Regions from separate parts of the Homo sapiens genome. Here all the other regions are linked to region 1. The links come from fine-mapping of genetic effects on gene expression. A gene starts in region 1. Each other region holds a variant in brackets. All regions are shown on one strand. Distances are from middle to middle.

Region 1 (10,652 bases):
CTGCATTGCAAAGGCTAGAATAATCTGTGCCATCGGGATTCTGGGTCACAATTCACCAATGAGAGGAATTTTGTGAGATTTTGGAAAGTGGAAGAGAAGCGGAAGCCATTTCTCACCCTGTAGCAGTGTTGTGCAAGGATGAAGACTTCAGCCAACAGTAGAGGTGAGGTTCTGCCAGGATCTCCTGGGTGACCTGCACATCATTGGTGCTTTAGGCAGCTGAAATCACCAACACGGTTTCCTGATACACCTGCACTTCAGAATTCCCAGAGGTTAACAGTAGCTTTCTCTAATCTGTTTCCCAATATTTCCCAGCAATATTATAAGCCTCTGATTCCCTGTATTAAATCCTTCCTACGTGAAACAACTACAGCAGTTTCTGACCAAATCCTGGTGTATTAGTTTGTTTTCACACTGAGACTGGGTAATTTATAAACAAAAGACGTTTAATTGATTCACAGTTCTGCATGGCTGGAGAGGCCTCAGGAAACTTATAATAAGGTGGAAGGTGAAGGGAAAGCAAGGCACCTTCTTCACAGAGCGGCAGGAGAGAGAGGGAGTGCAGGAGAAACTGTCATTTTTAAAGCTATCGGATATCATGAGAAGTCCCTCGCTATCACAAGAACAGCATGGGGGAACCCACCCTCATGATCCAATCACCTCCCACCAGATCTCTCCCCTGACACATGGGGATTAGAATTTGAGATGAGATTTGTGTGGGGACACAGAGCCAAACCATATCACCTGGCTAGCAGAAATACGGACAAGCAAATCACAAACGAAAACATAGAAATGCCAAATAAATGTAAAGAAATAAAATCATAACTAAAGAATACAAATTTTAAAAAATGAGATATTATTTTTTACTTATAAAATTGCCTACGGTTTATTTTATTTACATATATTATGTACTTGTCTAGTTTATTATAAACAGTCAAAGTTGGCAAGAGACAAACAATAAATAAGTAAAAAAACAAAAAACAGGTTCTGTTATGCACTCCTATTGGGAGTTTATATTTTACATCTACATTTGTAAAACCTTTCTAGAGGTCAATATCTGTTATAACCTCTTAAATGTTCATAACCTTTGTTATTCTAATTTTAGTTACAGAAATTAATCTTAAGGAAAATTTGGAGTACAATATTATATGTAAGAGTATTTATCAATGTGGCACATATACACCGTGGAATACGATGCAGACATAAAAAAGAATTGAATTCATGTCCTTTGCAGGGACGTGGATGAAGCTGGAAGCCATCATGCTCAGCAAACTAACATAGGAACAGAAAATCAAACACCGCATGTTCTCACTCATAAGTGGGAGTTGAACAATGAGAATACATGGACACAGGGAGGGGAACAACACACACTGGGGCCTGTCAGGGGATGGGGGGCAAGGGGAGGGAAAGCATTAGGACAAATACCTAATGCATGTGGGGCTTAAAACCTAGATGATGGGGTTGATATGTGCAGCAAACCACCACGGCACATGTACACCTATGCAACAAACCTGCACATTCTGCACATGTATCCCAGAACTTAAAGTAAAATAATAAATAAATAAGAGGATTTACCACAGTTCAAGTTATAGATCAGAATTTTTTTTAAAGCCTGAATATTTAAATATTTAATTTGTCATGACATACAGTGTCTTAGTCTGTTCAGGCTGCTATAACAAAATACCTTAGACTAGATAATTTATAAACAAAAGAAATATATTGCTCGGGAAGTTGCAAAGTCCAAGATCAAGGTGCCAGAAGATTTGATGCTAGGCAAGCGCCCATTCTTCATAGATGTCGCCTTCTGTGTGTTCTCACATGGCAGAAGGGCAAAGAGGCTCCCTCTATTATAACAGCACTAAGTCCATTCCTGAGGATGGAACCCTCGTGACCTAATCATCTTACAAAGACCCCACCTCTTAATACCATCACCTCGGAATTTAGGCTACAACATATGAATTTTGGGGAGAACACAAACATTCAGACAATAGCATATACATATAATAGAATCACTGTGGAGCTCTTATAAACCATGTTTTGGTATAAATGTAATAATAGAATGAGTTCATGATATAATATAAGTGAAAAAGTAAGATATATAATTATAGGTACAGTATGATTACACTCTTTTATATAATGTATACAATGTATAATATGTGAAATATATATGTATGCATAATAAATACATGTACATAAAATATTTCCTGGTATGTACATGTGTATATATATTTTTCCATGTATATAATTTATACACATTAACAAAAAATGAGAAAATATGACAAATATTTAACAATAGCTATTTCTCCAGTGGCAGGATTACAGATAATTTTTATTTTCATACATTTCTGTCTGACTTTTCCAAATGTGCTATTATGAGCATAAATTTTATAATTAAATACAAGTCAATAAGCATTTTAAAGTGCCTATAACAGCCCATCAGCAAGTGAAGAGATGAGATAAAAATGTGTCTGCACTTGGTACACATATTGACTTTCTTTTACTTCCATTTCCAGATGATATTGACAAAGATATTGAAAAAATTTGATTAATATGCCTCAGCTTAGATTTGCTATGCGAGAGCAAAGTCTTATTGTTTTAAAGGAATTATTTGCTGATCAGCTATAGGCTGACTTGACCTCATATTCCTACCATGATAGTCCCACAGTGTAGGGATGGGGTGGTATGACTCCCAAGACTTGGAGTATGTTATTTTCTCAGGGCAATGAAGATTTGGAAAAATGATGGCAAAGACAGAATTACTATCTCATCAAAGACATCCCTCAGCAGTATCTGTGGGCTGTGCAGTGTTCTCAGTTCGATAAAGGATTAGAACACAATGCTTCTTTGGAGAGCTGTGACTTGATACTGCATCAATACCTTTCTGAGAATTGTTTTTCATTTTCTTGCCTCTTTAACTTATTAAGCCTTAGGAGAATTAGTTGAAAAGCCAAGTCTTTGGGGTAGATACTAACATTAAGTCTTCTACTCTGTCATTTGCAATCATAAATTCCAGAACACAGCTCCTAATTCCATTGTGTATTGTTTTCTAAGGGAATGATAGACAGATTCTTTATTTTTTTAAACCTCTAAGCCTACCACACTTGCCGAGTTCCTCACTAGTCACTAAGAAAGTCCTGCCAATCAATGCATGGGTTTATGTCCATTGCTCAGCTCTTCTCCAATCAGACTCATTCCCCCAGCATCCCTGACACACCACTCTAAAATGCGGCTGCTGATGGTTCACCTTCCTCACTTTTGTCTACAAATCTCAATCCTGCTGATTCCACAAATCCTACATCAAGCAATATCATTTTATGAGTCTTTCCACAACCACCCCTTCAGGGGATTCTTCAATTTCTGTCACACCGGAAGTCTTCAGAGTATCACCCTCAGAGCCAGGCAAGAGGGACCCCGGCTAGGGTTTCAGGCTTTAGAGAGTCCAGCTCTGACTCCTTTTGGCCATAGGACTAATGTGATATGCCCACCTGGAGCCTGTGCCCTCCTTTCTAGACCATGCCCTGGGACTCAGAATCCCTTGCCCCAGATGGCCACACAATCACTTTCAGGTCCATTCTCTCTGGGCAGACAACATCACAAATGTGTGTACCCCAAGGCCTGAGGCCAAGAAGGCAGCTTTCTGGCTGTAGGGGCTGAGGTGTTCACACACATTTGCATGGCCCCTCAAGACAAAGAACAAGGGGGAAAGTGAGAAGAAAAGAAGCAGCCAGTGATCAGGGCCAGCTCTTGCAACTTAACCATGTTGGGTCATTCTGATTAAACCACTTAGCTCAAGTGTAGTGCTCAAGACACTTAGCACATTCTCCAGCTGAATTTACCAGTGTTCATGGACTACCTGGGTTAGAAATATATTTCACTATAAAGTAGCATACAAAATGAGCAGAAAGGGAGTTAATAAGATTAATAATAGAGTTAGTGAATATTATGAGCTGAGTTTTTGAGAAACGTAATTTCTTTCAACACTAATAACAACCTTGTGGGGGTTCATTGTCTCCCTTTAAAAATTAGGAAACCAAGGCTTTGCCATGGTCGCATAGGAGGGTCAGAATAGCATCTTTATGACCCCAGAGCATACTCCTCTCCACTCCACCTACCCATGTGTACAACTCAGACACTTTCTGGGATGTCCACGTCAACTATTCTTTAAAGAGTAACCAACAGATGGATAGTTTTCTGTTTGTGAATCAATGGTAGGTGACTGAAAAATTGGTTCTGAGAGGTCGTTTTGCAAGGATTGATGGTCACAGGCTGAGAAGCAGATTTGAAAGACCTACCTGCTAGCAGCATGAAGAGCTGCTCTTCCTTATCTTAGTATTAACTAGTTAATTATTGGAGGTGGGTGCAGGGGTGGATTATGTGTATTCTTAATTGTTGTAGAGTGGGGACTGGGAGTTACAAAGACTTTTGCAATTTTCGACCTTGCAGAGCTGAGCAATTTTCAGTTGCTTTGCTTGCTGATAGCACTGCTTCCCTTATCTACCATGGAACACATCTTAATGAAGAATTTGCATTCACAGCATCAGGTTAATGAATACAAAACAAAACAGTGTATATCCCTCTGATGGATGGGATTTCGGAAGCACAGACATTATACACATATTTGATGATAAAGTACTAGAAGTGCAGGGAATTGAGGTCAAGCTTCCTCCTAAGGGGACTGAATCCCAGAGAGAGCAGGTGACTTAGTAATGAGAAGTGGAGCTGTCTGTTCAACCAGGATGCTCCTCCTATGGCACGAAATTCAGTTTTAAAAATATATTAAATTCAAATCAAATGTGTTAGGTGTGAGTTCTATCCCTACAGGTATGAGGCAGAGGTGGAGGACTTTGTATACAATAGAGAAATAAATACATATATTAGGTCTTCCATGACATAGGATTTACTGACCCTCTCATGGGCATTCCTCTGAGGCATTTTGAGATTTATTGCTATAAAAGAGCCTCCCAAACATTATCTCACTTAGAAAAGGTAATCATATTAATATGATTTTGTTCACAGGAGAGAATTTAAGTGCCACTGCTTAAAGTTATCTCCTTGTTCCTAGGTTTAAGGAGACCTAGTAAATAAGAACATTCCACTTTGTCTGCATCAATAAAGATGAAAGATGACTTAGGAGGTGGGAATTGGAGTGGGAAACATTTTTCTATGTTCCCGATATTCTGAAACACATGTGACTTTATTCAATCACAAGGTAAACAGATTATGTAATTTACCAGAAAAAAAGTAATAAGACTGGTGGTGCTAGGTTTTCATACTCCAGCTATTAATGAATTAAAGAGAGTAACACTCCTGAAAGGATACCATTTTCTCAAGAAAACTGGAAAAGATTGTGTGGCATTTAAAAAATACCAAACTCTGTGGCCATAATGCTCTTAAAATTCATCTGTCTAAAGAAATTAGAAGTGAATCATATTAAATAAGGTTTAGATATGTCCACTTTATCTTCCTGAAAATATAATTTCATTACAATCAGATTTGTCATATTTTATCTGATTTTACTTGCTATTTAAAACACCTTATAATTTACTTGCATATTTAGAATTACAATATTCTTAATATACTTCTTGATCTTAACAAAACCTAGGCCAAATGTTAATCAAATCAAGCTGTTCAAAGTTACTTTATAGCACATTCCTATGAACACACCATACACACAGCAATATCTAGCAAGGGTGTCAATTTTTCGTTATTTTTAAAAGCTCATTTAAAGAAGTTATTTACTACAAATGACTCTACACACACACACGCGCGCGCGCGCGCGCACACACACACACACACACACACAAACCTTTTTAAAGAAACGCTAGAACCCAACCCCCTCTAGGCCAGAGGAAAACATTACAGCTGTATACGCACTTGTGCCTGTTGCCGTAGAGTAATACGGTAGCAGCAGGAGATTACGGTACTAGCTGGGCTACTGCCTGAGTTACGTCAGCGAGAGCTGCAAAGTTCCTTGCTATTCTTTTCTGGTGTCGGGGAGCTGAATATTAAAAGGGTGATTGTGGAGTTACCGGTTATCTGCATTTTTTTTTCTTTTCTTATTTTGACTCTTTTTAAAAAATGCAGGTAAAGTGACAGCGGTTCAGGAGCTTAAAGACATCAGTGGTGGAGGGGTGAGTCAGCGGGTGCAAAAGGACAAGGATTTGGTGCCTCGGAGACACGGTCCCCTCTCCGCCTCCAGAGAAGAGCAGGCAGGCAGCTCCCGGGACCGAAGCCGGGTCCACATCCCCCGCGCGCGAGCTGGTGGCTCAGCAGCGGCGCTTCAGGTGAGTGCGCCGGGGCCGGCGTCCCGCAGGGCCGAGTGGGTGAGGGCAGACCTCCCCCGCCGTCTGGTGAGACGGAACCCCCACTTTTCCCAGCGCCTCCCGCTTTTTCCACCAGGTTTTATACCGGCCCCTCTACCCCACCCCCGATTCCCTTACATCTTCTGCGAAGTTGCCTTCTACTGAACAAGTGTCTTTTTAACCCTGTGTTTATCACCCTCGAGGTAGGAGGAAAAGGGTTTCTGCAGTGGCACGTTTTTAATACCACCTGTGAGGTCTCCAACTTGCGATTTTAACAAGAGTCTTTGCCCGAGGTCCCACCTCAGGGCCCAACCCCAGAAGGCAAGGTGGGCACTTCCTCACGCCGCGCTGTCCTGCCGAGTCCCTGCGGTAGGTTCGCAGTTGTGGAAACCCAGGTTTCTTACGCAGATGGTGGCCCCCAGCCCAGAAAATCGAAGGCGGCCCCTGCCCGCTGGCATGCCGGCTTAATGTTTACGCCTGCAAAATCCGCAGTGACTGTCACTTGCAAAGCTCCCTCTGCAGAGGGACGTCCTCCCCACCCCGTCCCCCGCCAGTCCCGCTACGGCTGGCAGCTGGAGCCCCTCGGGTGGCCAACAGTGAGGCTTGGAAAGGCGTCGTGGACAGACCTGGGTCGCTTTCTGTCTTCGGGTCCCTCCCGGCTTCGCTCGGGACCTGGCTCTCAAGCCAGCTTGGCTGGTGGACAGACCGGTGCGCTCTGCACACCCGAGTGCGAATTCCACCGGCGTGAGAGTGAGCGTGCTCGTGGTCCTGGCCCTGAGGTCCCTGGGTCGCAGCTGTTCCCTCTCCCAGGCCGCCCCCTCCAGGTGACTGCGAGGCAACCTGTTCTAACGGAAACCGAGTACATCCTCCAGAATTCCCCGGCTAGGATCCGTGCGACACACTCGCCAGCCGCAGTCGCCCCTCCGGGGCTTCGAGGATTTTAATTTCGTGGTACCTGCGCTCGAAATCCAGACTTCGAGCGCTGGAGCCTGGGGTTTTGGGGATTTGTTTTTTTGTTTGTTTTTCGCTTCGGATCCTGAACTCGGGCAGAGGTGACTCAGTAGAGTGCGCTAGGCAGGTTCCCAGTGGTGGGGGCGCGAGATGAGCTCCGAAGTCGCCTCCACCGCTGCCGGGCGAAGCAGCTTCTGGACCGCAGAACCAACCCGGCTCCCAACTGGTGTCCCCCAACCCGTCAAGCTCAGCACAGCCTCTTTCCCTGGGGCGCCTAGCTCAAAGCCGCCTTTCTCTTTGCGCTCTTTCAGGTGGACGCGGTCAAACGATGCCCCGCAGCCTCCTGGGTCTCAGCACATATTCCACACCTACGTCCCCTGACCTGTGCTCCTAGAAGCTGGAGAGAGCAGGAGCCTTCGGTGGGGCAGCTCAAAATGTAGGTAACTGCGGGCCAGGAGCAGCGCCCAACCTGTAGCGCTGCGCTACCCAACCATCGGTCCCTGCCTTTGAGCGTCGACGGCTGATCTTTTGGTTTGAGGGAGAGACTGGCGCTGGAGTTTTGAATTCCGAATCATGTGCAGAATGCTGAATCTTCCCCCAGCCAGGACGAATAAGACAGCGCGGAAAAGCAGATTCTCGTAATTCTGGAATTGCATGTTGCAAGGAGTCTCCTGGATCTTCGCACCCAGCTTCGGGTAGGGAGGGAGTCCGGGTCCCGGGCTAGGCCAGCCCGGCAGGTGGAGAGGGTCCCCGGCAGCCCCGCGCGCCCCTGGCCATGTCTTTAATGCCCTGCCCCTTCATGTGGCCTTCTGAGGGTTCCCAGGGCTGGCCAGGGTTGTTTCCCACCCGCGCGCGCGCTCTCACCCCCAGCCAAACCCACCTGGCAGGGCTCCCTCCAGCCGAGACCTTTTGATTCCCGGCTCCCGCGCTCCCGCCTCCGCGCCAGCCCGGGAGGTGGCCCTGGACAGCCGGACCTCGCCCGGCCCCGGCTGGGACCATGGTGTTTCTCTCGGGAAATGCTTCCGACAGCTCCAACTGCACCCAACCGCCGGCACCGGTGAACATTTCCAAGGCCATTCTGCTCGGGGTGATCTTGGGGGGCCTCATTCTTTTCGGGGTGCTGGGTAACATCCTAGTGATCCTCTCCGTAGCCTGTCACCGACACCTGCACTCAGTCACGCACTACTACATCGTCAACCTGGCGGTGGCCGACCTCCTGCTCACCTCCACGGTGCTGCCCTTCTCCGCCATCTTCGAGGTCCTAGGCTACTGGGCCTTCGGCAGGGTCTTCTGCAACATCTGGGCGGCAGTGGATGTGCTGTGCTGCACCGCGTCCATCATGGGCCTCTGCATCATCTCCATCGACCGCTACATCGGCGTGAGCTACCCGCTGCGCTACCCAACCATCGTCACCCAGAGGAGGGGTCTCATGGCTCTGCTCTGCGTCTGGGCACTCTCCCTGGTCATATCCATTGGACCCCTGTTCGGCTGGAGGCAGCCGGCCCCCGAGGACGAGACCATCTGCCAGATCAACGAGGAGCCGGGCTACGTGCTCTTCTCAGCGCTGGGCTCCTTCTACCTGCCTCTGGCCATCATCCTGGTCATGTACTGCCGCGTCTACGTGGTGGCCAAGAGGGAGAGCCGGGGCCTCAAGTCTGGCCTCAAGACCGACAAGTCGGACTCGGAGCAAGTGACGCTCCGCATCCATCGGAAAAACGCCCCGGCAGGAGGCAGCGGGATGGCCAGCGCCAAGACCAAGACGCACTTCTCAGTGAGGCTCCTCAAGTTCTCCCGGGAGAAGAAAGCGGCCAAAACGCTGGGCATCGTGGTCGGCTGCTTCGTCCTCTGCTGGCTGCCTTTTTTCTTAGTCATGCCCATTGGTAAGTCTTGAACACCCCTCACTTTAGCATCTGGGGGTCTTCACCCTCCTCGGCTTCTGTTACCCCAGACTCCCAGTCCGGGATGGAAGAGGAAGGATTAGCATTTCAAACAGCACAGCTCTAGGGCAATTAGAAAAGGCTCCCTTGTAGAAAAGTGAATTTTCATTCTCTTTCTACTCCAGTCTCATTTATATTAGGTCCTAGAGCACTTTTTCGACTGTAAAGTGGCTTCCAACTGATGCAGATTAATTGGTCTCTTTAATAAGAATGTCAACTTTTCTTAATGCCTATAAGCACGTGTTCAATTTAAATGCATCTGCTCTCTCTAGTCTCAGAGTCTCCACCAAGTGCTTAGGCTGACTGTGGAATGCCATTTTCACTCTGCTACAGAATGCAAATTCTCTTGGCCTGAAAATAAGTACCATGCTTATTCTGGACAAATGTGTGATTTTATTATTGCATTAGGTTATTCATAAGGGTTTGTTATAATGGTCTGTTTATGTTCTATATCTGTGCTAATTTTATTTTCTGGATTCAGTATGGAAGGAATTATGGTCAGCCACTAAGAAAAAAAAATGATTTTATGTCCAAACCAATTTAAGCCTTAAATAATTAATCATAGTATTTCCAATAAGTAAATACTTATTTTTTTATTTTAATAATAAGTATTAAAACAAACACTTCTCTTATCCAAAATCATCCGGGAAGTTGCAGATAACACTGTTTGAAAATAATACAGTACACATAATGTTACAAATCCAATTTTTGCAGATGCTAAATTAGCTGTTGTCAAAATTAATTAGCTCATTATAAGTATCAGCAAGCTGATCCACTTGGAATAGACATCTATCTCCTTCAATGAGATCCCAAAATGGTTGTGTGCTATTTTTAGTTTGTAAGCTCAAATACAGACCCAAACATCGATTATCCACCAACTCTAAAAAACAAAACATTATGCCTAACATTAATAAAAGTCCATTTCAAGTGCTTTACAGCCTAATTTAAATGGCATATACTTAAAGTACTTTAATTTGCAACTCTGTGGAATAATAGCAACTATTATTTTTTTGTGCCACTTATGTTCCAGACATTTTCCTAAGCTTTTTATTTCATTAGTCCCCTCGACAACTCAGTGAGTTATACACAATTATCCTGCAATCACAAGCCATGGGAAGGGATTCTTCAGGTTCTAATACCATAGCCACCAGCCAAGGATAGCTATTTAAATGTTAATTGAAATTAAATAAAATTCTTTCAGTTCCTCAATTCCTCAGTCCCACTGACCACATCTCAAGTGCTCCATAGTCACACGTGGCCAGTGACTACTGTTTTAGACAGCAGAGATATAGGTCATTTCTATCATTGCAGAAATGTCTGTCCTGTAGGGCTGCCAGAGAGGCCCTCCTTAATCCAATACCTGGCCTTCCATTGTGCCTGCCCATCATTATTACTTACTCTGCTCCTGGAAGTACATCACAGCTTTGAAATTATAGAAATTACACTCTTTACCTGAGCCCCT
Region 2 (10,652 bases), 26 kb after region 1:
GCTATCCCTCCCTGTTCCCCCCACCCCACGACAGTCCCCAGAGTGTGATGTTCCCCTTCCTGTGTCCATGTGTTCTCAGTGTTCAATTCCCAGCTATGAGTGAGAATATGCAGTGTTTGGTTTTTTGTTCTTGCGATAGTTTCCTGAGAATGATGATTTCCAATTTCATCCATGTCCCTACAAAGGACATGAACTCATCATTTTTTATGACTGCATAGTATTCCATGGTGTATATGTGCCATATTTTCTTAATCCAGTCTATCATTGTTGGACATTTGGGTTGGTTCCAAGTCTTTGCTATTGTGAATAATTTTTGTTTCGTTTTTTGAGACGATGTCTCACTGTTACCCAGGCTGGAGTGCAATGGCGCGATCGCGGCTCACTGCAACCTCTGCCTCCTGGGTTCAAGTGATTGCCCTGCCTCAGCCTCTTAAGTGGGTGGGATTACAGGTGCCTGCCACCACGCCTGGCTAAGTTTTTGTATGTTTTTAGTAGAGACAGGGTTTCTCCATGTTGGCCAGGCTGGTCTCGAACTCCTGACCTCAAGTGATCCACCCACCTCGGCCTCCCAAAGTGCTAGGATTACAGGCATGAGCCACTGCGCCTGGCCCAAGATCTCTTTCTGTCATAGTGTCACAATTGGGGTGGGAGATGCTGCTGGCATTGTGTGGGTTAGACCAGGGGTGCTGCCGAATGTTCCACAACCACAGGACAGCCCCCACAACAGAGAATTAACCAGCCCAAAATGGCAATAGTGCCAAGATTAACAAACTCTGGTTTATGCTACAGGAATTCCTGAAATTTACAAAAATACATCAGAAACAGCACATTTAAAGCAGACATCAATTATTATTATTGTTCAGCTTTTGTTTACTGTGTTGCCAACATCTTAGCTAGTGATTCAAAACAAAACAAAACACATGAACCAAACAAACCCTGAGGTCTCCAGATGCCTTGAGGTCCCCAAAGAGGCAATATTTGTCTACTCACTTTGTTTTAATTGTAATTAAATTCACATAACGTAAAATTCACAATTTTAACCATCTTAAATTGTAAAATTCTGTAGCATTTAATACATTCGCAATGTTATCCAACTATCACCACTATCTAGTTCCAAAGCACTTCATGACCCCAGAATGAAATCTGGGTCCCATTAGCAATCACTCGGCATTCCCCACTCCCCAAGTGCCTGGCAGCCATCAATCTGTATGGATGTGCTGATTCCTGATACTGCATATGAATGGGATCATATATGTGACCTTTTGTGTATACCTCTTCATTTTGCATAATGTTATCAAGCTTCATCCATGTTATGGTATGTTTCAGGACTTCATTCCTTTTGTATGACTGAATACTATTTATTTGTATGAATGTACCATATTTTATTTATCTGTTGCTCCATTGAGGGTCATTTAAGTTATTTCTGCCTTGTGACCACTATGAATAGCATTGCTATGAACATCCATGTACAAGTTTTTGTTTGAGTACCAGTTTTCAGTTCTTTTAGGTATACCCCTAGGAGTTGAATTGCTCGGCCATATGGAACTTCTACGTTTAGCTAATTAAGGAACTGCCAAATTGTTTTTCACAGCAAACGCCCCAGTTTACATACCCACCAGCAATGTTTGAGGGCTCTAGTTTCTCTACATCCTCACCATTACTTGTCATTTTTTAAAATGATGTCCATCCTAGTGGGTGTGAAATAGTATCTCTAGTGATGTTGCTTTGCATTTCCCTAATGACTAATAATGCTGAGTGTCTTTTCATATGCATGTTTGGCTATTCATGTAACTTCTTTGGAGTTATATCTATTCACATCCTTTGCCCATTTTTTAATTGGGTTATTTGTCTTTTTATTGTTGAGTTGCAGGGGTTATTAATATATTCTGGATGCCAGACCCTGGTCAGATAATTGATCTGCAAATATTTTCATTCGTGGGTTGCCCTTTCACATTCTTGATAGTATCCTTTGGTGGACAGCTGTCTTTAATTTTTATGACATCCAATTTATCTACTTTTTCTTTTGTTGCATGTGTTCTTGGTGTCATATATCTAAGGAGTCATTGTCTAATTCAAGCTTGTCCAACCCATGGCCAGGACGGCTTTGAATGCAGCCCAATAAAAATTCATAAACTTTCTTAAAACATTATGATTTTTTCCAATTTTTTAAAGCTCATCAGCTATTGTTAGTTTTAGTGTATTTTATATGTGTCCCAAGACAACTCTTCTTCTTCCACTGTGGTCCAGGGAAGCCAAAAGATTGAACACCCCTGACAAAGTTGCAAAAATGTATCCTTATGTTTTCTCCTAAGAGTTATAGTTTCTCCTAAGAGTTATAGTTACACTTAGGTCCTTGATCCATTTTGAGTTAATTTTTATACATGATAGGAGGTAAGCTTCCAATTTCATTCTTTTGCTTGTAGAAATCCAATTGTCCAAGCATCATCTATTGAAGAAATTATTCTTTCTCCCACTGAGTGGTCTTGGCACCCTTGTCGAAATTCAACTGATCATAGATAAATGAGTTCATTTCTGGAGTCTAAATTCTATTCCATCAAATGGAATTGTATTCCACATTTCATATGTCCTTTATCCTTATGACAGTACCACACTGTTTTGATTACTGTAGCTTTGTAGTAAGTTCTGTAATTACTACCCACTATTTTTTACATCTCTAAAAGTTTAATAGAAACTTTCAAAAAGACTACCTCTTTTTAAAGAAAATGATGTAGAATAGGACAGGTACACAATGTCTGTATTCCTAAGTTCAAAAGCTCTGAAAATTGCAAGTTCTCGATTAATAATTTGGGGCCAAAATCTGACCTTATCAGAACTCATTTGGCAGTGAACTCAATCTGAACTCAGGTGAGTCCATTTGTAGATTTTATATTTTACACGTTGTGTTGCAGAAATATTTCTGTGTTTGATTGTAGGGTGCTGACCCATATCCCACTGGTAGTAGTATACAATATACAACATATGATCCAGATGACCTTTATAAAATCTGAAAAATCCTGATTTCCAAAACACATCTAATACCAAAGTTTTTGGAAAAGGAATGGTGGACCTGTATCACAATACTTGTTATCTCATGATGCTCAAAACTCCCATGATTTTTAAATCTTTGATTAGAAAAACACAAAGGGAAACAAATAATCATAACTTGCTTCATGCACTAACATTTATGGCACAACACGTGTTCGCCAATTTATTAAGCACTTTACCACTGTGTCTCTGCAGCCATTGTGGTCCGTTTGTGAATTCCTTCAGATATTTACACAATGTAAAATATTGCACTTGAATCAGTTCCTTTGTTTTAAACTTTGCCCTTCTGGATCATCCCTTAAGATGAAAATGCCCAGCTTTTCCATGAGGCAGTTGCACTGTGATTCTGGTACATCCAATCCTATATTCTTAGCCCATTACTCATTATTCATTTAATTCCATAGTTCCTCTATATGTTGATGAGGAGGTATTTTTATCCTCATTTTATCTGACAAAAAAAATTTTGTCTACATAGTTTTAACTGCCTCATAGAGCCATGTTGATCATATGGCAAGCAAGGTGTTCACCATGGCCATCAGTTCCAAGAGAAAATAGACAATCCTACACTCTCTACTCCAACCCTGATCAGCCCATGTGGTTTACTGGACAAAGGGAAGAAGTGGACAAATGAGAGGAATTGAAGCTGAAAAGAGCCAGGAGAAATAGAGGGATGAGCAGGAAACTAGGGGACAAAGGGAGTAAATTATTAACAAGGCGAGTCTAATGTTCACTGAGCTCTCAGATGTTGTCACATCCAGTTCTTATCCTGCACTTGCTGATGAATCAAGACATGTTCACAAAGCACTGAGCATCTGCTGCGGGCTCGGTTCTGAGCTAAGTCTTCTGGAGGTCAGGAAGAAGAAGAGCCACTTTCTTCAAGTCTAATCTGGGGAAAAGGATAGCACACTTGAAACAATAGTCATCAGGACAAGATAACACTCATTATAAATGGTCTAGGAATCCAGAGGGGAGATATGCCAGGCAGGTCTTAATTAGGGAAGTTTCCATAGAGGGAAGGAGTCTTTAACTGGGTCTTGAAAGGTAGAATTTGAAAAGCCAATAGCGGATTTGAAAAGCCAATAGAAGCTCCAAGACAGGAGTGAACACAGCACATTCATGAGCTTGTGAGATAATCCTTGAGTGGTGTGTGTGTGTGTGTGTGTGTGTGTGTGTGTGTGTGTGTGTAGAAAGAGAGAGAGGGAGAGAGAGAGTCATGGAAAACCAGACTTGGTGGGACAATATTATTATCCAGACTTGGTGGGACAATATTATTGACCCAGACCAGGGATGATATTATTCTGGGTGTCTTTTTGAAAACCAGACAAAGGTTTTGGCCATGAAATCAGAGGAAGTGGGGAGCCACTGGGGGTTTGAGGCAGGGAAGCAACATTGCAGAGCAGTGTTAGAATAAGATCCGGTCTGCAGTGATCGCAAGGTGTGTTGAAGTGAGAGATTCAGGCTGGCTGTTTAGGTTTGAATGAGGACCTGCTCAGGGGTGTGGCAGTAAAATACAGAAGGTCGGGGAGAGAACAGGGATATTTCAAGGCAGGTCAATGGGAATCAGAGACTGCGTCTGAGGAATCAGAGTGGAATTAATAAAAGAGGCTTTTGAGCTTTGCATGCAGTAGGGA[T/G]TAGTTGTCCATAGACAGAGAGGCTGGGAGAGGAGTTGGTTCCAGAAAACCTTTAGTATTGATCATATTTTGCCTGAAATGATGGTGTTTAAGTGAAACTATCTGGAACTATGCTGTCCAATATGGTAGCCTCTAGCCACATGTAATAAATTAAATTGAAATTGAAATTAGATAAAATTAAAAATTCAGTTTTGCAGTCAGGCTAACTGCATTTCAAGTACTCCATAGCTCCATATGGCTAATGTCCACTGCATTCAACAGCCCAGGCAGAGAACATTTCCATCCTCTCAGAATGTTCTGTTGGACAGGGTTGACCTAGAGATCAGCAGAAATAATTGGCATTTGGTGAAGAAGAGCTCTTGAGATGAGAGTCATGGGAATAGAAAATAGCAAAGCTAAGGGAATGGGTCATCTCCTAAGGAGGGCTGAATGTTAGAATATGTTGGCATCAGTAGGCAGAAGAAAAAACAAGCAGAACTTGCACAACGTTTTGGAAAAGTGGGAGACTCACCACAGCATAAAATCCTGGCAACAAAAAGAAGAGAGAATTTTAGTGAAGAGAAAGTGGCGCCAATATCAAATGCAGCAGAGAAGTCAAGGGGAAAGAAAAGGAGAAAAAAAATAGCGTTTAGTAATCTGAGGTCATTTGTGACCTATCAAAGCTGATGCAGAGTTGGGAAGAGATGTCACTAAATAGGAATGCCACCAGCTTTCTCTTGTGCTAGGGTAGGAGTTTGGGATCTAGGAACAGTTTCAGCTGAATGTTAGGGACAGGAGGCTTGTCATGGAGGATGTGGAAATAAAAGTGGAGGTGAGGAACAGAGCCAGGACCTGAGAGGACAAAGCAAAGGGATGAAAGATTGTGCTGTCGCCATCAAGGGCTCCACCAAGGGTCCAATTTTGTTTTTGTTTTTTTCCAAGAAAAGAAAAATGAGTACAGAAGGAGGGGAATCTGCAGGCAGTGGTTGAGAGGATTTGAATGCAAAGGATATCTGGGAAAGCCCGATGCCTTCACAGTTAGAAGGGAGTAAGAAAGGAGGTGCAAGGGTGGGGTAGGCTTTGGTGGCTCAGACAGTGGGTGGTAAAGGAAACTGTAGGTGGCCTTGAGACTGTGGTCCTCTGAGATTGGAACGGTCACTTGAAGCCAACCTGTCAGCGTGATCTGCCTGCTACTTCCCACTTCCCTTCCACTGGATTCTTTTTGTGATTGCTTTCCATTTGGATTTCAGTTTATGCTTTATGTGCTTTATTTCATTGAATCCATGTGAACATTTGGGGGCAGTTGGGCATTTTGATTCTCATTTCCAACCTGAGGAAACTGTGGTAGAGGGTGGTTAAGTAACTGGCCCAGGATCATGCAGCAAGTAAGTGACAGAGTAGAAATTGAACCTGTTCCCTCTGGTGCCCTTAATGTCCTCTGTAGTCTTCACCCAGTGCACTCATGCAACCAGCCTATTCCTGCTATCATGACTGGCTTGCTACAACTGTGATCATGCCCACATAAGGCTGTGTTTGCTCTCTATAGCCATAATTCTCCTGTCATTACTGAGAGGTGGAAAAATGTTTGAGGGGAAATAACACAAATAACACTTCCTGGTGTCAACCCAGCCTCCATAGGGGACAAAAATGCTTAGCAACTCTTTCAAAGTATCCAAGACAAAACTTGACCTTTAAGCGGTTTCTCCATTTAGAGTTAAATTTGTCTTTAGCAAATATGGTTTGAATAAATCAAGACTTCCTGTTTTAGCTATTTAATGGGGAAGGTAATAATTCCAATCTGATTTTAAATTTTTCTTTTGCCAAATTCCACAGGGCAAGAAAAAAAAAAAAAGAACGCTAAAGTTCAGGATAAAAAAGAAACTTCCCAAGAAGTGCATTGGTACAAACCACTGCTGTGGTCATCATAAATGTCTTTTACTTTTACTTTCCAAACCAAAGTCTAGGGTTTCCATGGTAACTGCTTTGGCCCCAGCTGGTTTGCATCATGTTGTTTGTATAGAAGCCAGTGGAGCAGGGCTCGACTGTGTCACAAAGTTCAGGTGTCAATATGGATCTCCCGGGACAAATACCAGAAAGAAAAATATTGCATGCAACACCTTCTCCTACCCAACCGCTACTTTCCCAAACCCCAGCACTCTGCTACTGTGCTGACCAAATGCCCAGGGATTTCCAGTCTCCCATCCTCTCAAAGTCAAACCTCCAGCTGCATCCAGTTGTGACTTCTGTATATGTCTAACTGTGTCCATTGGAAGGGAATTAAAGCAGCAGGCTTTTAATTTACAAATGTTGCATCCATTCGAATGTTCTTGAGCAATAGTGTTTCATAAGGGTTACAACATAGATTCAACAACCCCAGCCAAGTGCAAACTTGAGAAATTGCAGATTGCCTTCCTGTGATTCACCCAGAATTCCAGATGGAAATTATTTCTCAAGGTCAGTGCAAAGCTCCGTACAAAGGTGTCTCCTATAGAGAACATGTGGTGTGAGGCTGGACCGAGGGTCAAGGCTTCCATTCCTGTTTGCTCCTTGACCTTGGCAGAGTTAGCCTGCCTCCGAGAGCTTCTCTCTAGCCATAGGGGAATCACATAGTTTGTGCCTTTCCTCCCCACACACCCTTCCCACCATCCCACCCCAAGACCTGCTCCTATTTTCTAGGCTTGGTGAGGGCACTAAGGAAGAAATATGCCTCCTTCCGCCAAATTACTTCCATTTCTTAAAATAAATCCCAGCTTTTCTCTTCTGGGAAGCCACCCCAGAGTGGACTAAGATCTCAAAATATCTTTTATTTACTTTATTCAAGAAACATTGAGAGTCTACCAGGCGCCAGACAGGAACAGACCCTGACTTCAAGGTGGAGACTAGCATGTAATTAAGCCCAATAAAGGACCAAAATCATTGTACAGGTACAGTCAGAGGAGGCTGGTTTTCCAGTTTGAAGTTTAGGAAGTCAAAAAACTTCTTCAGGCCGGGCATGGTGGCTCACGCCTGTAATCCCAGCACTTTGGGGGGCCGAGGCAGGTGGATCACAAGGTCAGGAGATCGAGACCATCCTGGCTAACACAGTGAAACCCCGTCTCTACTAAAGACACAAAAAATGAGCTGGGCGTTGTGGCAGGAGCCTGTAGTCCCAGCTACTTAGGAGGCTGAGGCAGGAGAATCACTTGAACCCGGGAGGCGGAGGTTGCAGTGAGCCAAGATTGCACCACTGCACTCCAGCCTGGGCGTAGATCGAGGCTCCATCTCAAAAAAAAAAAAAAAAAAAATTCTTCACAGAGAAGTGAAGCACCACTTAACTAGCACCCTTATTACTTTCTAATAATTAGCATGCATAGTCCATCATTATATCATATGCTTTAAATACACAAATTTGCTTGCAAGTCTATCTTGATATCTATTGAAATAAAAATCTCTAATGTAAAGACCTGGTTTTCATTATACTGGGTTTAATATCTGACTTGTCCAGGATAGAGCTAGTCACATGGTGAGGGTCAGGTGGCCTTAACTCTGGTTCCAGAGCTGAGGGGACACATTAGAGGACACACTGGTGGTTTACCTGAGGGGGTGGCCCTATGCAGACATTAAGGAGGGAGGCCTTTCCTCTGTGTCCAGGTAAGGAATGGATCCACATCTAAGGCCAAAGCTACAGAATAGGGACTTGCACACAGTACCTTTATCTTCTACCACTTTTTTGATAGTAATGGCATCTACATTTTTACCATTTCAAATTTTTGAATGACCCTGGTTCTCCCTTGCTTTGTGCCATTGGGAAGCTTCCTTCTCTCCAGGGCTCAGTTCTTCACCAGCTGAATGATGAAAGTGGCTTAGGTGATCATCTTGTAAGCTCTAAATTGTATTCCATAGGCCTAACCTGAATCAGTCTTATCAGCTTGGAATCCTCAGGGCCTAAGCACAGTAGTAAGTCCTGAATAAATATTTGTTCAATTAAATTGAAGAGACTCAAAGTCAAGTCCTGCATTATTGGAGAGCATAGAGATTCCAGTTATTGTCCTCTATTTCAGATGAGCAGCGGGGTGAAGGGTCTGGATTTTCTACTCATCACTAAGCCTCGGAAGGTGGTGTCAGTGACTGGGATCTGCTTGTAAGCTGCTCCAACTTGGCTTCTTCAGATATAGATTCATACAGAGCCTAGACCTGTGCCTTGCTTTGTTAAATATCTGAATGTAAAAAGGAAAAATACATCAATTGTCCAAAGTACTTACATGTGGTCTTATAAACTAAAGAAAGTAACCACATAGATTTCTGGTGCCTGAAAAAAAGAAAACATGTTGTAGAACATCTGTATCATTAAACGCCTGTCCTGGTTTGTACTCAACTACTTGGCTTAACTTTGCACAGTCCTGAGAAATACAAGTCTTGTGATTGGTATAGACAGCCAACTGGAGCAACTCAAGCCGGAAAAACAACACAATTGTCCTGGTTGTACATTGCACTGCATACAATCACTAAAAGACAATTCTAATTCTGTCTTCCGTATTACTTTGGTAGAGACTAAAGTAATGTATTGAGATAGGAATCAAAGGCAGTAAAAGTGGGAACATTCTGAGCATACATGGGAGGTACTGAGCTTCTACTCATTGAGCCTTCTCCAAACATGTCAGCTCACTCAGGTGTGTGTCAGAATAGCCCTTGCAAAATTCTCTCATAAAGCAAAGCTTTTTTCCTTGTGCTATAACACATCCCCACTGTGGGCACCGGTTAGGCCTCAGGCTATCTAGCCCAATGGCTACTGTACACTTTTTTTTTTTTTTTGAGACAGAGTCTCTCTCTGTCACCCAGGCTGGAGTGCAATGGTGCCATCTTGGCTCACTGCAACTTCCACCTCCCAGGCTCAAGCGATTCTTGTGCCTCAGCCTCCCAAGTAGCTAGGATTATAGGCATGCACCACCATACCTGGCTAATTTTTGTGTTTTTAATAGAGATGGGGTTTCACTGTGTTGGCTGGGCTGGTCTCAAACTCCTGGCCTCAAGTGATCTGCCCTCCTCAGCCTCCCAAAGTGCTGGGATTACCGGTGTGAGTTGCCATGCCCAGCCTGGCTATTGTAGACTTTAATAGGACTCTTAATTTGACTTTAATGTGACTACTTCTCTTCCTATCTGTGCTTCTTCATATAGACTCTGCACCGCACTTGGAGATATTTTATCCCACATAATCAATGTCAGACAAAAATAAATTTAAAAAGCTTTTTTAAAAAGCCTGAAGAGGTCCAGGCACATGCCTGGTAGAGGAAGGTGAATTCTATATGCTTTTTTTTTTTCTATTGACAAGGACAAATATCTCTCAGCACTTATATACTAGCCATTGTATATCTACCTTTGTTTAGTAATCACAGTTCTATTAGGCAGAGTGAGGTGAGGGCCCATTACCCAGTTAGGAAGTGGCAAAGCTGAGATTCAAACCAAAACCCTTGGATTCTGGAACCAAGGGCTTTCCCCTGTACTATGCTGCCTTCCTGGGCTGGTCGTTTGCCCTTCTCTCAGCTCTTTGGAACTGCATTCACTGGCACACAGTCTGAAGGGACCTAAGCACTCCCCTTCACTTGCCACTCAGCCCAAATACCACTGCTGGCCCCTCCTGAAGAGCACAGAGAAGAGAATCTCCTTCTGAACAATGAGCAGAGATTTTGTTTAAAATTTCTCACATCTCTTTGTAGTTTATTTTTGTAAACTTGGCCTATAAGACGCTACTTATTTGCTCTTATATGTGTTACCTGCAGTTTTAAGAAAGAACTACCAGACCAACAATATCACTTTGGTTTTGGTTTATGTAGCCTAAATAACTCGCTACACGTCTCTTCTTAAAGTGTTTAATGAGAGTTTTTAGTGAAATTTGCTGTTTTGTGGAAATATTCACACTAGGTGATGGATTATTTGAAATTTTCTTCCTAATGCAGCGCTGCTGTGTAAGAACATCATCATTGTTCAGTTTGGTGGGTTTTCTCTTCACGGTGTAGATAA
Region 3 (10,652 bases), 140 kb before region 1:
AGTCCAGACACCCAAGAGTATGTCCCTCTTTTGGGCATAAGAAAACCTAGAGTTATATTTAGGGCATCATGTGTGGTGAATAGTTGACTGAGCTGGCATGCTCACAATGACCAAATTATGTTTGTCATATTTTAATCCAATACATTGATCTACTATGAACTTGTAAATAATGTATTTGCTTTCTAGACACATTCCAGGAAGACCAGAGAAACTGACTTTTATCCATATGGAATAATTCACTGGCAAATTTCTTTTAGGACAGACCAAAGCTGATCTAGAACATAATCTTTACATACTTGGATCCTTCCCATCAGTCGAGAAACAACATCTGAGGTGAAAGGCTCCATTAGAAGAGCAATGTGGGATGGTGCTGTGCTGACAACTGGTAGTTCCTGCCCTACATCTTTGTAGAGGACTGGAGGCCAGAGCATGCCATGGTCAACTTGTATGTTGAAGTGAAGACCTCCTTCGAGGTGTGCATGTGCTTATTACAGATATGCCATGGTGCTAAGTACCCCAGGACTACAGGAAAAAATAAGAATAGATGCTGTGTCCATGATCATGAGGCACACAGGCCAGAGCGCCCGCTGTGGAATCGCACAGCCCGGGTTCAAAGCCTGGCTGGGCCATGACCACCTGAATGACCTGAGGAATGGTCTCAGGCAAATTTGTAAAAAGTGGAGACCCTGCCTGCCAGGGAGGCATGTGGTAAGAGGCGCATCCAGTCAGGTCAGGGCACCGCGTCCTCTCTTTGGAAACTTGCGGAGCGAGGCGTGCCTTGAGGCCACGGCAGCCATGGAGAAGGCGGGCCTGGCTCCAGGCGGCACAGAGGCACTGGAGAGGCCCCGGGGGAGCCTGGCAGGATCTGGCTGGTCCTGCGCTCTGCTTCCAGGTTCTGGCCCTGTAACCTGGGGGATAGGGCCGGCCAAGACAGGGCCACTGGATGCCAGCCAGCATCTGGGCCAGGTGCCAGGTGGAAGGGCTCTGGTGGATCAGCCCCGCACCCCCAACAGCCCCACAGGGGGGCCCATCCAGGGCCACACACCTGCCCCCAGGAGCAGGACGTCCCTGAGGCTAGAGTCCAGCTGGACCGGTGGAAGGGTCTCACCCTTTGCCCTTTGACTCCTCTTGTAGGCACCCTCGCTGGGCTCCTAAGCACTCCTCCACACCCTGGCTCTGTCACCAGCCCCATGGTGATGTCATAAACTCCCAGATGCCCAGTGTGCACCCGGCCACAGAGAAGTGGGTGACTTAGGAGTATCCTCTCTGTTTCTGACCCTTAGTTTCGTCTGTGCACAACTCGCTTAAAATGGGCAACTCACTAAGCGTATTTTGTTCCTGGTCCCACCGCAGGTCCTGGCCACGCCATCGGCAACCTGCTCGTCTTGTCTGTGAGGCCTTCCCAGCTGGCCGGGCTCACCCTGCAGCTCCCGCACCTGTGCCTGCCCCGGGAATCTGGGGCCGTTTCCCACTCCTCTTCAACCGTCAGCGACACCTTGGGCCTTCTTTTCCAGTCAGGTGGGACGGCGCCCCTGTCAGGCTGTGTCTTATCTCTCGGAACACGGGCACCCCACAGAAGGTCCTGCCTCCTGTGGTCTGGAGCCCCCCCTCAAGGAAGAAACCCATGCTGTCTGCTCGCAACTCCATGATGTTTGGACACCTCAGCCCCGTGAGGATCCCTCGTCTCAGAGGCAAGTTTAACCTTCAACTTCCTTCATTAGATGAGCAGGTGATCCCAGCCAGGCTCCTGAAGATGGAGGTGAGGGCAGAAGAGCCCAAAGAAGCAACGGAGGTGAAAGACCAGGTAGAGACCCAGGGGCAGGAGGACAATAAAATGGGCCCCTGTAGCAATGGGGAAGCAGCCTCCACCTCTAGGCCCCTGGAGACTCAGGGAAACCTCACTTCCTCCTGGTACAATCCCAGGCCCTTGGAGGGAAATGTCCACCTCAAGAGCTTGACAGAAAAGAACCAGACTGACAAGGCCCAGGTGCATGCAGTGAGTTTCTACTCCAAGGGCCATGGAGTCGCCAGTTCACACAGCCCTGCTGGTGGCATCCTTCCCTTTGGGAAGCCTGACCCACTTCCAACAGTGCTCCCTGCCCCAGTTCCGGGCTGCTCCCTGTGGCCAGAGAAGGCGGCCTTGAAGGTGCTGGGTAAAGACCACCTGCCCAGCTCTCCAGGCTTGCTGATGGTGGGGGAGGACATGCAGCCCAAGGATCCTGCAGTTCTTGGATCAAGTAGGTCTTCTCCACCCAGAGCTGCCGGCCACAGGTCCCGCAAAAGAAAACTGTCGGGGCCACCACTGCAGCTGCAACTGACCCCTCCCCTGCAACTGAGGTGGGATAGAGACGGGGGGCCCCCACCGGCTAAGCTTCCATGTCTATCTCCTGAGGCACTGTTGGTGGGTCAGGCTTCCCAAAGAGAAGGACGCCTCCAGCAGGGCAACATGCGTAAGAACATGAGGGTGTTAAGTAGAACATCAAAATTCAGGAGACGAAAACAGCTGCTTAGGAGGAGAAAGAAGACACGGCAGGGCAGGCGTGGTGGCTCATGCCTGTAATCCAGCACTTTGGGAGGCCCAGGCGGGCGGATCACACTTGGCACTCCTCACTTTGCAGACAGGACGGCGGCGCAACCTTCCAAGTGTGAAGTGACAGCCTTGTGTGTGATCTTTCTGCCCTCCCCAAGTTTGCATTTTCGACATTAAAGTTTACTTTTTAATTAAAAAAAGGAGATCGAGATCATTCTGGCCAACATGGTGAAACTCCGTCTCTACTGAAAATACAAAAATTAGGCCGGCATGGTGGCTTGTGCCTGTAGTCCCAGCTACTCGGGAGGCTGAGGCAGGAGAATGGCTTGAACCCGGGAGGTGGAGGTTGCAGTGAGCCGAGATTGCACCACTGCACTCCAGACTGGTGACAGAGCAAGACTCCGTCCTGAAACGATGTTGTGGTTGAGAGCAGGATGGTCTTTTGGGACAGGAGGAACAAGAGGTTCTGGTTGCCACTCTTCAATCAGTTCTTCTTTTTCTTTGACTGTAAGATCAGATCGTTCTTGTAATTTGTAAGTCTTAGAGAAAAGAAGTCTGATTATCCAGAGTATCAGAATCCCTTCCAAAATAAGATGGTAAGCAGGAGCCTCGTAAAGCAACTGTACCATCTCCACCAGAACCCACTGCTCCATGGCGGTCGCCATAGTTAGCCGCTTCCTTCCGGAAGGCTAGGGGTTAATTTTAAAAAGCTTCATGGAGGAGATAGTAACTAAGGTGGTCCAGGAAGAATAGGGACATGATGGAGGGATGAAAGAAGGGAGGTAAAAAGTGGGACAAAGAACACTGGAGATGGAGGGAATGCTATGAAAGAAGATACCGAGGCTTTGGGAGATATGGGAGTCGTATGCACGTGTAGGCAGTGTCTTAGTTTGCTCAGGCTGCTGTAACAAAGTGTCATAGGCTGAGAGGGTTTTGTTGTTGTTGTTTTTTGTTTGTTTGTTTTGGTTTTTCTGAGACTGAGTCTCGCTCTGTTGCCCGGGCTGGAGTGCAGTGGCACGATCTCGGCTCACTGCAACCTCCGCCTCCAGGGTTCAAGAGATTATCCTGCTTCAGCCTCCTGAGTAGCTGGGACTACATTCATGCGCCACCATGCCCAGCTAATTTTTGTATTTTTAGTAGAGACGGGGTTTCACCATGTTGGCCAGGATTATCTCGATCTCTTAACCTCGTGATCTGCCCGCCGCGGCCTCCCAGAGTGCTGGGATTACAGGCGTGAGCCACCACGCCCCGGCCTGCTGAGTGGTTTAAACCAGCAGTCCCCAACATTTTTGGCACCGGGGACGGGTTTCATGGAAGACAATTTTTCCACAGATGGCGGGGGCTGGGGGCGGTGTAGGGGGGATGATGGTCTCAAGATGAAACTGTTTCACCTCAGATCGTCAGGCATTAGTTAGATTCTCATAAGGAGCGCACAATCTAGATGCCTCGCGTGCGCAGTTCACAACAGGGTTTGTGCTCCTGTGAGAATCTAATGCTGCCGCTGATCTGACAGCAGGCGGAACTCAGGCCATAATGCTCACTGACCCGCAGCCACTCACCTCCTGCTGTACAGCCTGGTTCCTAACAGGCCACAGAACAATACAGGTCCACGGTCTGGAGGTTAGGGACAACCCCGTGGTTTAAACAACAGAAATTTATGTTCTCACTGTTCTGGAGGCTGGAAGTCTGAGATCAAGGTGTCAGCAGGATTGGTTTCTCCTGAGCCTCTCTCCTTGGCTTGTGGATGGCCACCTTCTCCCTGCGTCCCACATGGTCTTCCCTTTGTGGGTGCCTGTGTCCTAATCTCTTCTCCTCATAAGGACACCAGTCCTGTTGGATTAGGGCCCATCCCAGCGACCTCATTTTACTGTCATTAGCTCTCTAAAGACCTTATCTCCAAATACAATCACATTATGAGTTCCTGGGGTTAGGAAGTTAATGCATGAATTTTGAGGAGAAACAGTTCAGCCCACAGTAGGCAGAATCACACAGTCATTATGCACACAGGCTCTGGAGTTCAAATCCCCACTCTGGCACTTATTAACTGTGCAGCTATGATTAAATTACATAAGCTTTACTGTGCATCAGTTTTCTCAGCTTTGAGGTAGGATAACAATAGTAACCTTCTCCATAAGGGTGTTGCAAGGATTAAATGTGTTCCTGTATATACCTGGCACTTAGTGAGTGCTCAGTAAATGTTATCCATTACTAGGACTGAAACAAAAATTTAAACACTGGATAAAAATGCTCAGAGACTGCTTTCAAAGTTGAACTATTCCACTAAGTAGGAGTATGATCTTGGGAAATTTACTCAGTCAATGAAATATTAAGTAGTGTGTACTATGTTTCTATCAGTTAACCTCATTGGGATTTAGCATTTTCCTGTATTAAAACAAGAGGTTTAACAAGATTGCTTTTTGAGTCCTTTTCAGTTCTGGCATTCTGAGAGTGTGTTCATCACACATGGATTGAAATGTGAGCTCATTGTGCAGGACAGAAGGAAACAAAGATAGAAAGAAAGGGGGACAGTAAGTTGTCAGGGGCTCCGAGTGCTGCTGGGGGAGGAGTTAGTATTCTAGGTATTGGCAAGCTCTTGTAGGGTTCTGAACAGATGAACAACTTAGTAGGTTTCCAATTCAGGGTAAGGATCTCAAAAATACAAAATTATTGATTAAGGTCATCTGTCTCACTTTATTGTAGCAACCAACAATTCCTGTATAAATGACTTAACCCAGGGAGGAAATAGTTTACAATTTGAGGTGTCAAAAAACTCACTGTTAAATAGGTAATTTTAAAAACTCTATTGTTTACTGTTTAGCTAACAATGAAGAGATTAAACTCCTTGGGCTGATGCAGGGGCAGAGACAGATGAGAGCTCGGTCCCAGATGGGGATTCCCCACCTAGGTGGCCATCCAGCTGCACCTTGAGAAAAAAGTGTTAGACAATTTGAAAACCAGCATTAAGATCATTATTCAGAAACATCTCATTTTACAGCTACATTAATTCAACAAATATTTACAGAGTACCAACCATCTGCCAGGAACTGTGCTAAGCTCTTCTAAAGCTTTACATTTTAATTAGGTGAGAGACAAAAAAATAGCAAATAAATACATCAGCAAGATAGTTGCAAAATATGATATATGCCTTAAAAGATGTGACTATGCACAAAGAGTATCCTGGGTGTGGGCCATTTTAGATTGGGTGATAGGAGGTGGCATTTGGGGTAGGTAACATTTGGGGCTGGCTCTTTGCAGTGGGCATTGGTTAAAGTCCACAGCTACCTTCATATTTGTAAAGTATTCATAATACCTTTTGAATCCCTATCTAAAGTTTGCAGAATTTCTCACCTTGTGCTCTCACCCAAAGTTAAAGGAACACCTTGCTTTCCTAGCACCTTGAGAGCAAAGTGCAGGCATGAGGCATGAGCTCTGCCAGTCCCATGCACTCACTGGAGATTCCAGCTCAGAAAAG[C/G]GTGATGTGAAAGGGGTGATGCCCTTAAAGCATTTCAGGAAGGCTAGTGGGTCTTGGCTGAGACATAACAGGAAGAGGTCCCAGTGGTGGCACCCCCCAATCTAGCATCATGGAGCAGGCTGTGACACAATGTGCAGGACACCTGTCAGATTTCCTCTGGAGCAAGCTGTCCATGCCATTGTTCAAGCTGCTCCCTGGCCCATCTGCAGTCTCCAGGAGCCTCTCATGTGATTTAATAAATTGCATTCCTGATTGAACTAGCTCCAGTGAGCCCTGCTCTTTGCAACTTAGAACCCCGGTGGGTGTAGTAATTGATTCTAGAAGTGTCTGCTGTCAAGAAGCCTTCAAGTAAATGGAATGCAAGGATGATAAGGTAAGCTGGCTGCTTCTGAGCTGAAGAGCTTAAAGAAAGAAAACAATTTCCAAAGTATTTGTTAGCCCAAGGCATGGTCAGAAAACCAGGGACTTTCTTTGATTTCTATGGCTGTGCTGAAAGAATCACTTATCTTTACTGCAGACAGAGGGCTTCTGTAGCCAAAAATCAAAGTCAAGGGTTGAGTCTGAGGGTTGCCAACATTCAGAGTCAGAGGAATTCACTGTATTGCCTGATTTCATTGGTGGATATTAAGGCATCAAAGAGGAATGACTATAATCTTGAATATGGGAACTGGACCAAAGAAGAGGATTTGGGGGCCTTATACTCCTAACCCCCAAAGACCTGTATAATGGAAAACACCCCTCTTTCCAAATCTGATGATCCTCTTCCTGCCTTGCTTAAAGACCTCCTAATGGCTTCATTCATAGCATTAACCTCTTAAAATGTCCTCCAGGCCTCCTCCCCACCCCTCCCAGACATTGTCTCTAACGTATAACTAGGTGCAGAACCCTGTGGGCCCTGGGATGCTAAAAACAAATCATACCTAGGAAAAGGTTTACACACCAACGATTTGTAAGAACTGCCCACTAACAGAAACTTTTTAAAAGTATGTTTCACACATACTTTTAAAGGAGAGTAAAGTCTCTAGGCAAAAAAAAATGATGGATGGTTCTCTAAGGTCCCATTAAGTCTATGTAACTGAGAAAACTTTAGTACTGCCTGCAGGACAGGTCCCTGGATAGCCTTGGCCGGCCCAGCTCTTCCCTCTCTTGCTTGCAATGCAACATCCTAAGATAAGAAGGAAATGTCCAGAACATCTCAGGCTATATCTTCCTTCCTCCCAGACTAGGATGTTCTGCAGTACTTATGCTCAGCAATCCAATTTGCACCCAGGGTATAAAACCCAGAACGAAATACTTCCAGGGTCCCTCAGCTGCAGTGGAATGTGGAACACATACCAATGAGATTCCATCTGCACTGCACCACTTTCCTTCTCACTGAAAGGCTGGCTCGCCGTGGACCCTAGGCTTGTGTTTATCCTTGTGACTACATGTGAGTAACAAAGTCACTTTGCCTCACTTGTGCCAGTGTCTTGTCTTACCAGATTAGACCTGAGAGCCTTCACTGGCCAACAGGGCCCAGCATAAGCCCTCGAATAGTGATTCACAGATTCTGAGGGATTTAGGCTAGAGAGGGCTGGACATAGTTTTGGATTAGGCTAAATATTTCATTAGGCATACTCTGTAAAGATAGTCTAGGTTAAAATAATTAGCTTGACCACCCTGAAGTGCCTCTAGCAACTTGCTCTTTTGGCAGAATTAAATTGAATTCAGTGGTGGCCTTCTTAAGAGAAATTGATATGCCAGAAATTCCTCAGTGCAATGAGCAAGAAAGATACCAAAGTCCTAGAGAGATAGGAATGTAGAAGATTGGACTGTCCACTAATCTATCCCTTAACCTCATACCTGAGTGAGCATGGAAGACATGGCACCCACCAGGATGTAGATAACTGCATGTGGGTGGGGAGTATCAACATCTCTAAAAAGCTCGTTAGCTGGCTCTCTTTAGGCAATAACGTGAGTGGAAGATGCTACTACTGACATGGTCTTTCTGGATGTCAAATAGCAGCATCCAACTGTCAGAGATAAAATGGGTGTGGACCAAATATTAGGCAGCTGAGCCACAGTGGGAAGTACATGCTTCAACCCACAGGGATCTTTGCTACTTGCTAAGGGATAGTAAAGTCTCTGACACAAAATTCATGGATAGTTTACAAATGTCCTATTAGGTCTGCGTAACAGAAAACTTCAGGATGGATAAAGAAAGGTCTGGTTTGAGCCTCAAATAGAGAGTAACAGCCTCTTACCCAATTCCTGCATTTGAATCAGCTCAAAAACTCACAGCCCTTTGAATGAAGAGGAGGCTGGAGTCTTGACAACATCACAAGTACATGTGATCACTGTTCTTCCCACCCTTCTCCCAAAGAGACCTGAGCCCTTTTACTAGGGAACCCATATACAATAACAAAGGAAAACACCTAGATATTTTAGAGATTATTGAACACTGGTTCAACAAGTCTGGGAATGCATGACATCACTACAGTCTACCAGCTTTGCTACGGAGGCTATCTGAGAAATGTTGTTTTTCCTGGAGTCTACCTTATGAGGAGAGTAGAACTCCAAGGCTATCCTTCCCAGTTAACTGTGTGCATGGCTAGAAAGAAATGCCTGGCTCCCTGATCCACGGAGGAAGGCCTATTATGTTAGAAATATCCAAATAAGAACCCGTGGAACTGTTATTTTCCTCCAGAATAGTAAATCTAAAGTTTCTTTGCAAATGGGTGAAATTGTCAAGGTCATTGTTACCATCAAAGACTTGAAAGTTGCAAGGATGGTGCTTTTTGTCACATTTTCATCTCAACTCACCAACTGATCTGTGAAGAATATGGAAGCATCTTGGAAGATGACAGATTATGGCAAGGTAAATCAAGTGACAACAGCAACTGTAGCTCCTAGCAACTGTGTGCAGCTACTCATAAGCTTTATAATTTTTGTCTTTGTTTTTTCAATACCAATATGCAGAGAACCCAGAAAAAAGTTGCTCTCACACGAAAAAAAAAATCAGGAATCCACTGTTACTCTTTGATGTCTGTTATGGCAATTTTCAGTTCTGTATCACAATAGAGATTCTAGGAGCCTTGATCATCTCACCATCATGCCAGAACATCACCCTGGCCTTCTGTAACAGGGATGTCATGAAGACAGAACCTGGAGAGCAGAAAGTAGCAGGTACTAGCATGCCTCTTTAAGACATGTATAGCTGAGGATGAAAAACGCAGTACTGTGGCTTTGCAGTGCAGTGGAGTCTTTTGTTTGTTTGTTTGTTGTTTGTTTTTTGAGATGGAGTCTCGCACTGGTGAAGTCTTTTTTAAAAATAATTTTCACTTTTATTTTAGATACGGGGGTACATGGGCAGGTTTGTTACATGTATATCACGTGATGCTGAGGTTTAGGATACAAATGATCTCATCACCCAGGTAGTGAGCACAGTACCCAACAGGTAGTTTTAAAACCCATTCTCCTCTCCCTCTCTCCCCGCTCTAGTAGTCTCCATTGTGTATTGTTCTCATCTTTACGTCCATGAGTACGCAGTGTTTAACTCCCACTTATAAGTGAGAATGTGCAAAATTTGGTTTTCTCTTCCATGCAGTGACATCTTGCAGTGTGTCCAGTGGTTAAGGGCACATTATAAACGACATGTGTAACAATGTGTTCCCCCTTTTCCAAGGCTGTCCTGAACACCATTGCTGAGGGCCCAACTTGTCAGCACCAGTAGCCAATCCTGATTGGCACATCATACATTTGGGAGAGTAACCCTCCACCTGGTGGCAGGTTAGGTATATTATACCCCTTCTATGATGGAGGGGACTGTGATTTGCCCTTATTGGAATAGACACATATCATGGATGCATATTTGCCTTCACTGTACATAATGCTTCTGCCACTAATAACATAAGGATTTGCTGAATACGTTGATCACCATCATGGCATTTTACACAACACTGCTTTGAAAAAGGGAGATATTTTATAGCAAGTAAGTAACACAATAGCCTTACATTCATGAGATTTCCTGGTCTTTCCATTTACCAAAATCAGCTTACTCTAGAGTAGAGTTGAATGGTCTCATATAATACTTGACTTGTGTAATACAGGTAATACATTGTACTGCTGAGACATGGTTTTCTATAGAACACAGTATATATTTTGAACAAGAAACCTGTAGATATTCTTTTTCTGACAGCCAAAATACTTGGATCTATAAACCAGTGATGAAAGATAAAATGGCATCCCTTGTTATTATACCACTAGATCACTTGCAAAATATTTTCTCCTCCTCCCCTAAGAGTCTTTGTCTCCAAGAGAAGAATGCTTCTTTAGGGGCCACACTGTATTTCCATTCAATGAGAGGTTAAACTGGTCATTTAAGACTGCTTGGCTGGGTGCGGTGGCTTACGCCTGTAATCCCAGCACTTTGGGAGGCCTAGGCGGGCGGATCACCAGGTCAGGAGATCGAGACCATTCTTGCTAACATGGTGAAACCCCCATCTCTACTAAAAACACACAAAAAAATTAGCCAGGCATGGTGGCGGGCACCTGTAGTCCCAGCTACTCAGGAGGCTGAGGCAGGAGAATGGCGTGAACCCGGGAGGCGGAGTTGCAGTGAGCCAAGACCACACCACTGCACTCCAGCCTGGGCAACTGAGCAAGACTGTG

Which allele goes with the higher level. Positions count from the first base shown, and alleles are read on the strand shown. Sizes are in standard deviations (SD) of each study's normalised expression. Not every link is listed here.
In carriers of allele T in region 2, the expression in esophagus muscle of the gene that starts at base 5,942 in region 1 tends to be lower than with G alone (small effect, 0.32 SD a copy in GTEx).

The links. PIP is the estimated chance that this variant, and not a neighbour inherited with it, causes the effect. A credible set is the group of variants that fine-mapping cannot tell apart.
Region 2: its variant is the best candidate, but not a certain one, in a credible set for the expression of ADRA1A in esophagus muscle (GTEx, PIP 0.74).
Region 3: its variant is the best candidate, but not a certain one, in a credible set for the expression of ADRA1A in lung (TOPMed, PIP 0.79).

What each region holds. Positions count from the first base shown.
Region 1 is chr8:26,862,568-26,873,219 of GRCh38, reverse strand. ADRA1A (adrenoceptor alpha 1A) reads left to right here and starts at 5,942. Exons shown (of 3, transcript NM_000680.4): 1 at 5,942-6,284; 2 at 7,565-9,133. The coding sequence starts at 8,251. RefSeq lists an enhancer at 6,721-7,672.
Region 2 is chr8:26,836,445-26,847,096 of GRCh38, reverse strand. All of the region lies in intron 2 of ADRA1A (adrenoceptor alpha 1A), which reads left to right. Among named protein-coding and RNA genes, the nearest start is that of ADRA1A, 26 kb to the left of the region's middle. The variant T/G (reference allele first, on the strand shown) is at 4,677.
Region 3 is chr8:27,003,029-27,013,680 of GRCh38, reverse strand. It overlaps the pseudogene LOC100132229. Among named protein-coding and RNA genes, the nearest start is that of MIR548H4, 41 kb to the left of the region's middle. The variant C/G (reference allele first, on the strand shown) is at 6,003.